Linked DNA regions of Homo sapiens: region 1 is reported to be linked to region 2. Evidence: microRNA targets listed by miRTarBase, many of them from high-throughput screens and not tested one by one. Region 2 holds a microRNA gene; the other region holds the end of a gene's coding sequence.
What was found. The annotated mature microRNA hsa-miR-187-3p reads UCGUGUCUUGUGUUGCAGCCGG and lies in region 2 at 1,319-1,340, opposite strand. An mRNA with a match to its seed (bases 2 to 7 or 8) in the 3' UTR can be bound and repressed. Matches are read on the target gene's strand: a 7mer-m8 pairs with bases 2 to 8, a 7mer-A1 pairs with bases 2 to 7 and ends in A, and an 8mer does both.

Region 1: the mRNA of INPP5B is a reported target of hsa-miR-187-3p. Seed matches in the 3' UTR shown: 7mer-m8 at 768-774 and 7mer-m8 at 1,342-1,348.

Annotation. Positions count from the first base shown.
Region 1 is chr1:37,858,509-37,862,899 of GRCh38, reverse strand. It overlaps INPP5B (inositol polyphosphate-5-phosphatase B), which reads left to right. Exons shown (of 24, transcript NM_005540.3): 24 at 470-2,203. The coding sequence ends at 585. MTF1 (metal regulatory transcription factor 1) reads left to right here and starts at 3,308. Exons shown (of 11, transcript NM_005955.3): 1 at 3,308-3,369. RefSeq lists a silencer at 3,042-3,371.
Region 2 is chr18:35,903,517-35,907,907 of GRCh38, forward strand. MIR187 (microRNA 187) reads right to left here and starts at 1,410; the gene lies at 1,302-1,410.

The sequences.
Region 1 (4,391 bases), not on the chromosome of region 2:
CACTGGCAGGGACAGGCTAATTTTTGTTATTTTTAGTAGAGATGGGGTTTTACCATGTTGGCCTAGCTGGTCTTGAACTCCTGGCCTCTAGTGATCTGCCCGCTTTGGCTTCCCAAAGTGCTGGGATTATAGGTGTGAGCCACCACACCCAGCTCATAATACCGTATTTTTGATGTGCCTTTCCTATGTTTAGATATATTTGGATGCACAAATACTTAGCACTGTGTTACAATTGCCTGTAGTATTCAGTATAGTAACATGCTGTACAGGAGCTTAGGAGCAATAGACTATACCATCTAGAATTGTGTAAGTACAGGTTTGTGAAAGTTTAAGTACACGCTATGATGTTTGCACAATGATGAAATCACCTAATGACACATTTCTCAGAACATATCCCTGTCGTTAAGTGATGTGTGTCTTTAGTACCTTCTTTTGCTGAATCATTTCTTTTCTGTGTTTTTTCTTGCAGCTAGCATATTTGGCAGCTTATTGCTTCGAAACCCAGCTGGTCACCAAAAGCTTGATATGACAGAGAAGAAGAAGGCTCAAGAATTTATTCACCAGTTCCTCTGCAACCCACTCTGAGCCTCTCTCTCCTCCTATTTTACTTGAGGCTGCCAATTACCAGCCCCACCTGTTTCAGCTCAAGAGATGCCTTAAGATAATTATGTGAGGCCACTTGGTAGCAAGAATGGCAGCTATTTCCTGAGCCTAGTACCCCAATTAAGCCCACCATTGGTTAGCACACTCAGCGCTGTGAGTCGTGAAGACACGGGAGAAAATCCACCATAATAAAACTGACATTCAATTTTCAACTTTAGTTATTTAACACAGATTTTTTTATTTTTTATTTTTTTTTATTTTGAGACGGAGTTTTGCTCTGTCGCGCAGGGTGGAGTGCGGTGGCACGATCTCGGCTCACTGCAACCTCTGCCTCCTGGGTGCAAGCAATTATCCTGCCTCAGCCTCCCGAGTAGCTGGGACTGCAGGCACACACTGCCACGCCCAGCTAATTTTTTGCATTTTAGTAGAGACGGGGTTTCACCGTGTTGCCCAGGCTGTTCTAAAACTCCTGAACTCAGGTAATCTGCCTGCCTCGGCCTCCCCAAGTGCTAGGATTACAGATGTGAGCCACCACGCCCGGCCTTTTTTTTTTTTTTTTCTTTTTTGAGATGGAGTTTCACTCTTGTTGCCCAGGCTGGAGTGCGTTGGCGTGGTCTTGGCTCACTGCAACCTCTGCCTCCTTGGTTCAAGCAATTCTCCTGCCTCAGCCTCTCGAGTAGCTGGGATTATAGGCGTCCGCCACCATGCCTGGCTAATTTTTTTGTGTGTTTTTAGTATAGACACGGTTTCACCATGTTGGCCAGGCTGGTCTCGAATGCCTGGCCTCAGGTGATCCACCTGCCTTGGCCTCCCAAAGTGCTGGGATTACAGGCATGAACCACCACGCCTGGCCTAAAATGTTTTTAAATAACTGTACTTGTACTCACTCACCCTACCTCCAGGGCATAGTCAGTCTGGGCTGAGATCCCCATGATCAGATATTTGATGGAAAGTCCTGAAAGGCCAATGAGTTGGATGGCAAGAATGCAGGCAGAAGCTGCTGGATAAAATAGGCTACAGCCACCTCAGATGCTTTCAGTGCTCTGTCTGAGGATGTGTATATGCATATGCAAACTCGACCCCCGTTCCTGCCCAGATAATGGCTCAATAACTCTGAGGCTGGTTGCTCAGCCTCTGAGGGCAATACAGGCATTTAAAAAATTAAAATGACCAGGCACAGTGGCTCACGCCTGTAATCTCGGCACTTTGGGAGACTGAGGTGGGAGCATCACTTGAGACCAGGAGTTTGGGACCAGGCTGGGCAACACAGGGAGACCCCCTCTCTACAAAAACATTTTTAAAAAATTAGCTGGGTGTGGTGATGCATGCCTGTGGTCCCAGTTACTTGGGAGGCTGACGTGGGTGGCTCACTTGAGCACAGGAGTTTGAGGCTGCAGTGACCTATGACCACATCACTGTACGCCAGCCCGGGTGAGAGAGGGAGACCCCGTCTCTAAAAATAAAATGTAAAATCACTGAAAAAATGAGTGTTCGGTGAAACAAGTGGGATTTTCTGGGCCAGCAAGTCTTCCAAACTGTATATGATGCATCCTGTCTCCATGTGTAATATATTTTAATGATAAATGTATTTTTAACAGTGGCGGTTGTGTATGTTTTTATGTCTTAAGAGATGGCAGTTCGCTGCAGCTGGATTTTGTGGCTCAAGCCTTGGGGCCAAAGAGACATATTCCTGGCAGTCTGGTGGGTACCAGTCACTATTCACATACTTCCAGCAAGAAATGGTTATGGCACTGACCTGAACCCCTTGACCCCTGGTCTGGTCTTTGGAGTTGTCCCACTCTGAATATTCGAGAGAAGCAGCTTATGGTTAAAACAGGCAGTGGCAGCTGGGAGGATCTAACAGCTAGATCCTCCAGGCATTTGGAAAGGACAGGGGCATAACGAAGGCAGAATCGCTTCCTGGGTACGAATGCCCACTACTTCTGGGCACTGTGAAATGGGTTTAAGACGCGGGCCAGCAGGACAATGTGAACGGTGAAAGGAAGGGAGTGGCCGGTAGGTGGCGCTAACTGGCCCGGGCATGAGTCCCGCCGTAGCCGCGTCCTCTTGCAGGGGAAGAAAGTTGGGACCGCCAGCCTGGGCAAGCGCGTGAGAAGGGAGCTGGGGGTCCTAGGCAAGCGCGTGAGAAGGGGAAGAGGCGGCGGCGTCCTCTCCAGCTGGGCTTAGAATACTCTTAGTTCTGCCTTTGGGGTCTTGTCTTCCTTTCTGGGCCTCCTGCCTGTGTTAACTTTGATGGGTGCTGAAGGGAAGGCCGGGGTCCCGGCAGGAGAAACCCGGGAACGTCGCGGCCGTCCAGGCTCCCCTGGCGGGTTGGAGCCAGGGTTCTGACTGCCAACTGTGGTCCTTCCCGCTGCGGCTGTGGCTGCCAGGGCGAGGGCGGTCAGCGCAAACCTGGCTGAGGACATTTCGGATTCTTCCTTGGGGATTCGTTCCCTTCTCCTTGACTCCGGTGCCGCGAGGGCGACACCCTCCGGGCCCCGCGTGGCCACCCCGGGCGCTTCCCCACGCGGATGAACCCACCTCCTGGGCGCCTTCCCCTCGGTGCCCCGCTCGCCAATTGGAGGCTGCAGCTCAGCCCCCTGACAACCTGAGCCAACCAGAGGCGCCAGGGAGGGGCGGATCCTCTGTCCCCACCTTCCTCCGGAAAGAGGAAGCGGAAGTGACGTTAGGGGAAGGTGGGGGCAATCATGGTGCCGCTGGGGAGGGGAGAAGCTGCTGCTGCCGCCGTTGCCGGGAGCCGCGGAGGTAAAAGGCGAAACTAGACTCGGCCTGGGCTTGGGACTTACCGGGAGGCGCGGGACTTAGGCTCCCTCCTGAAGCATTTCCCAATAGAGACCTCAGTTTGGTCACCATAGGGACCCCACCCCTTCTCCGTTTCCATGGGGATGGGTATCCAGCCCCCCTTCCCTGTTTCCATGGAGACCCGGACCCTGCCCCTCTCCTCCTTGCTTGGAGACCCCCAGCTTGTCTTCGGATTTTTCTGTGTAGCCCTGTGCTGGGGGCTATCCCAGACAGGTTCCTTTTCCCAGCCTCCTCTCAAGGGGGCTCTGTTCGCACTCCTCGTTGGCTACCCTCAAACCTCCTGGTCTTGTTTGTTTCGGACAGTTGGTCTCCGCGTTGCCGCCGAGGGTGCCGGGGCAGCCCACTGGGGCCCTCGGTGCTCTTCTCTCTCTGCTCAGATGCAGCGAAATGTACATCTGTGGGGTTGCGTAAGCCAGAGCTAGGGGTCGGGCCGGTACCTCCCGGATCCAATCCTTTGGCCTGTCTCTGGTAACTGTCTAGCCATCCCACTAAGTAAAGGCTCACTTTCTAACCCAGAGCAGAAGAGAAAGATAAAGCGCAAAGCCAGACTGAAAACTAAAAGGGATGTGCTGATTATTTTAAAATTCTCTATTCTGCCTGCCAAACCCACATTTGTAGAGCCTGTGTTTGCAGATGAAGGAAGAATCACTATTCCAGAACATGAAAGCTTCAAATGTGGTATTTTTCTCAAGAGAATGTATCTTCCCAAGATAGTATATCTTCACGAGAGAGTAGGTAGCCATGTCTTTCAGTCATTTAGCTGACATTTCCTGAACTCTTATCATAGTATCAGTGTACTATGCTAGGAGCTGTAGAAACAAAAATAATAAGACTCAATTGATTCAGGGACGAGAGCCCACCACAGAACCATAACTTCTTGTTGACACCATATTGTTTTAGGACATAAATAGATACAGTGATCTTCGTTGTTTGTGCCTGATTGAGGAATAGCCCTTCCACCCAGA
Region 2 (4,391 bases):
CTAATGTTAAATGAAGAGTTAATGGGTGCAGCACACCAACATGGCGCATGTATACATATGTAACAAACCTGCACATTGTGCACATGTACCCTGAACCTTAAAGTATAATAAGAAAAAAAAAGACAGTTTCCAGGTTTCCCACACAGAAGACAGCATGTCTGCCTTAACCTGATCTGTTCTGTAGTGGATCCTGCTGGGTTGTTCAGGCCATGATGGTGACACATGACCCAGAGCCTTCCCTGCATCTCGATCCGCTCAACTTCCCGGCTTTCCCCTCAGTTTTCACTTAAGTGCAGCCTAAAATGACCATAAAATGTCATTTTATGCTAGTTCCCTCCAGATCATTCAAGAGAAGGAAAAACACTGCACCAATTACATTTTAAAACTAGCTCATTTCTTGTAAAAGAGGAGGCACTGTGAACACCATGAGGCTGGTGAAAAGCAAGGGAATAAATGGATCCTTTCTATCTAGGACACAGGGTTGGTGTGGAAAGTAACATGCAGGTAGTCCTGGGGGCCAGGGGCTCATCTGAATCTGATTGAAGGGTGCTGCCCCAAGAGCAGGCTCTTTGGGGAAATTCGAGCCATAGTCCTCAGCTGTGAAGGCAGAGTCACTCAGCGGACCCTGCATCCAAGCTCCCACCCCAGTGCTGTGACAGCCTGCACAGGTGAAGGAACCTTGCTTTTCACACCTCTCACCTCCAGTTTTAGGGTCCTCTTCTGGGGCTTCTTCCCTATTGGGAGTTCATGATCTGATTTCATTTCCTTCTGGAGTCTCTGTCATGTTGGCAGTAATGTCTTCAATGAAACCAGCTAATGCCTACAGTGGTTTAATCTCCCACCTTGCAGAAAATATTCACATTTTAATAGACAACTCCTAAAAATGCAATGCTTTTCCGATCTGGAGGCGGTCCAGTGGTGGGCTTCTCATCAATGGGAGAGATGTTTGGGGAGAAACTGCCTTCCTTGCTACCCTCCTACCCCCATTGTGGAGTCTCAGTCACCTGGTCTGGGGACCGGAGGTGAGGAGCAGAAGGCATCCTCAAAGCCCAGACCCAAAGTAGGCTGTGTCACCCTGCAGCCAGCACCAGCTACCTGCACTGGGCCAGAGGTGAGCCAAGCTGTGTACGGAGAGACGAAACTAGGACAAAAAAGGGGGCTGAATGGGTGACACCTGGGGTGGTCCGGGTCGGCCTCTCTCCCAACACCCCACCCACCTGCCCACCAGAGCCTGGACTTTCCCATGGTCTCTGTGCAGTCCCCTGTGTCGAGTCCCTCAGGACAAGCGGAGCAGGCTCTGCTGCGGACCTGCGTCCCTCCGGCTGCAACACAAGACACGAGGGGTCAGAGCAGCGCCCGGGTCCTGTGTTGTAGCCCGAGGTCTCACACTGTGTCATGGTGAGCCCGACCTGCAGCACCTGCCTGGCCTCCTCTTCCAGGTGGGCTGCCCAGCTTCTGCTTGGGGAATCCGACTTGCTGTGCATCCCGATGAGGAAGCTGTAAAAGAACAGAGGTCAGCATCAGTAGAGGGTCCTGGGACTGGGGCTCAGCAGAGGCCTTGACCTGAGGAGTCTTGGCTGTGATGGGCGAGGAGTCCTGCCCGGGGCAGCATAGATGACCTGTGCTCCAGGTGAGCAGCGAGCCTGATGGAAATGCTCAGAGAGGTGAGGGGCTTTGCACGCAAATACTTCACTGTCCACATACCTTTTCCTTTAAACAATGAATTATGGCTGTTTACAAGCCACTAATTACAGTTTATCATAACAATACTTCCTAGGAAATGGGTTCCTACTCTAATACTATGATGAGAATTTTGTAAACGCCAAGCTAGTACAATGAATTGCCCTGAGTTATAATAAATATCTGCACTTTGGGAGTAAGGCAGTAAACACAACATTACTGCTATCCATTTCCTATAGGCCTCTGAAGGATTTATTACTTATTTATGGTTTCTTTTTATTCAAAAACTCCTACATATCATTTTTTTGCAGATTATTTTGGATGAGTCATTTCTGGTTTTTTTTACAAAATAAAACGCGGTAGGCCCAGAACCCAAAAAGCGTCCCAACTTCAGTCCCTCCAAAGGTGACTTGTTGAGATTCCTCCCCGAGGCGCGCAATCCTTGGCTGAGCTCCACAGAATTCCTGGGCTGTGGGAATGAGGAGTAAGCGGCGGTGTTGCTCTCCTTATTTCTAGCTTCAGTAAAGTGGACCCATCAGTTTTGTTCAACGAATCTTTTGGGAAGGCTGTAGACTTTGAGCCCAGATGGGACATTAAACAGAAGTGTAGAAATTAGGTGTCACATCGTTTTCTACCAACAAAAGAAGATAAAAGTAGAAGGAAGAGGGATAACAATATCATGCCCACATTTTGTACAGGAACTTAAAATTGAACAATTTAGAGGGAGGGAAATCCCTTCTCTTCCTAAATTGTCTAAAAGACTGAGGGGCTCTTCCCAGCTGACCAGGGTACTCCCCACTATATCTGAGTCTGTGCAGACCTATACAGGCACATGTTCTCCAAATAAGTTATTTTCCCCTCCAAACTCCTTTCTCAGGCTGGGCACTCATGATCTAAGACTGCATCAGGCCCTGAGAAGCAACAGAGGACTCATACACTTTTTTTGTGTGTGGTTTTTTTTATTATACTTTAAGTTTTAGGGTACATGTGCACAATGTGCAGGTTTGTTACATATGTATACATGCGCCATGTTGGTGTGCTGCACCCATTAACTCGTCATTTACATTAGGTATATCTCCTAAAGCTATCCCTCCCCTCCTCCCCCCATCCCACAACAGGCCCCAGTGTGTGATGTTCCCCTTCCTGTGTCCAAGTGTTCTCATTGTTCAATTCCCACCTATGAGTGAGAACATGTGGTGTTTGGTTTTTCGTCCTTGTGATAGTTTGCTGAGAATGATGGTTTCCAGCTTCATCCATGTCCCTACAAAGGAGATGAACTCATCCTTTTTTATGGCTGCATAGTATTCCATGGTGTATACATGCCACATTTTCTTAATCCAGTCTATCATTGTTGGACATTTGGGTTGGTTCCAAGTCTTTGCTATTGTGAATAGTGCTGCAATAAACATACGTGTGCATGTGTCTTTATAGCAGCATGATTTATAATCCTTTGGGTATATACCCAGTAATGGGATGGCTGGGTCAAACGGTATTTCTAGTTCTAGATCCCTGAGGAATCGCCACACTGACTTCCACAATGGTTGAACTAGTTTACAGTCCCACCAACAGTGTCAAAGTGTTCCTATTTCTCCACATCCTCTCCAGCACCTGTTGTTTCCTGACTTTTTAATGATCCCCATTCTAACTGGTGTGAGATGGTATCTCACTGTGGTTTTGATTTGCATTTCTCTGATGGCCAGTGATGATGAGCATTTTTTCATGTGTCTTTTGGCTGCATAAATGTCTAATTTTGAGAAGTGTCTGTTCATGTCCTTTGCCCACTTTGTGATGGGGTTGTTTGTTTTTTTCGTGTAAATTTGTTTGAGTTCTTTGTAGATTCTGGATATTAGCCCTTTGTCAGATGAGTAGATTGCAAAAATTTTCTCCCATTCTGTAGGTTGCCTGTTCACTCTGTTGGTAGTTTCTTTTGCTGTGGACTCGTACACTTTTTAACACATCATTGTCTCAGGGCCCAACACACGGCCTCTGAAAAATGAGAGCCTGTCACAGAGCCACCAGGCAGTGGCCCGCTACTGGCTATTGGGAGAAGCTACCCAGTCCCCAGAACCCAGCCCCCTGCTTCACAAGTCCAGACACCTGATGCTATCCAAGTGCCCAAGTTTGGGGGGCTGGCTCCTGCTGACAAAACTCTGAAGAAACTGAATTCTGCACATGCTTACCTTGCCTTTGAAAGGCAGCAGAAGTGGAGTTGCATTATTGGGTTCTGTCTGAAGAAAGTGAAGGTATCCCAGTACTCATCTGCAACTTCTGACTACAAGCATGTGCAGCAGGCACCCTGGAACTGTATTTTCAGAAACTAAAGAACACAGAGGCAGCTAGGACAGTGGGGAGAAAGCCCGTGCTGATGCAAGGACAGGGAGACCTGAGCTCTGGCTCTGGCCTCGCAGCAGGGAGCAAGTCATGATGAGTAAATCCCAGAAGCTGACCCAGAGTGGCTGCCTGCATGACTTGCTTACTTGCATGATGCTTAGACAGCTGGCTGATTCTCAGATTCCCCAGGAACCAAAATGCAGGCCAGGCGGTAACAGAGCCTCAGCCTGTGGGAGCCCCCTGCACCTGCCTCACAGCACATCCTCCCAGGTGTTGCAGGCCAGGCCTTCTTTCCCAAGTCAGAAGCCAGGCCCATACGGGCAGCTCAGCTGGAACAACGGAGGTGCAGGTCCAAGGCCCAAATAGTGGAGAGTAGGTGG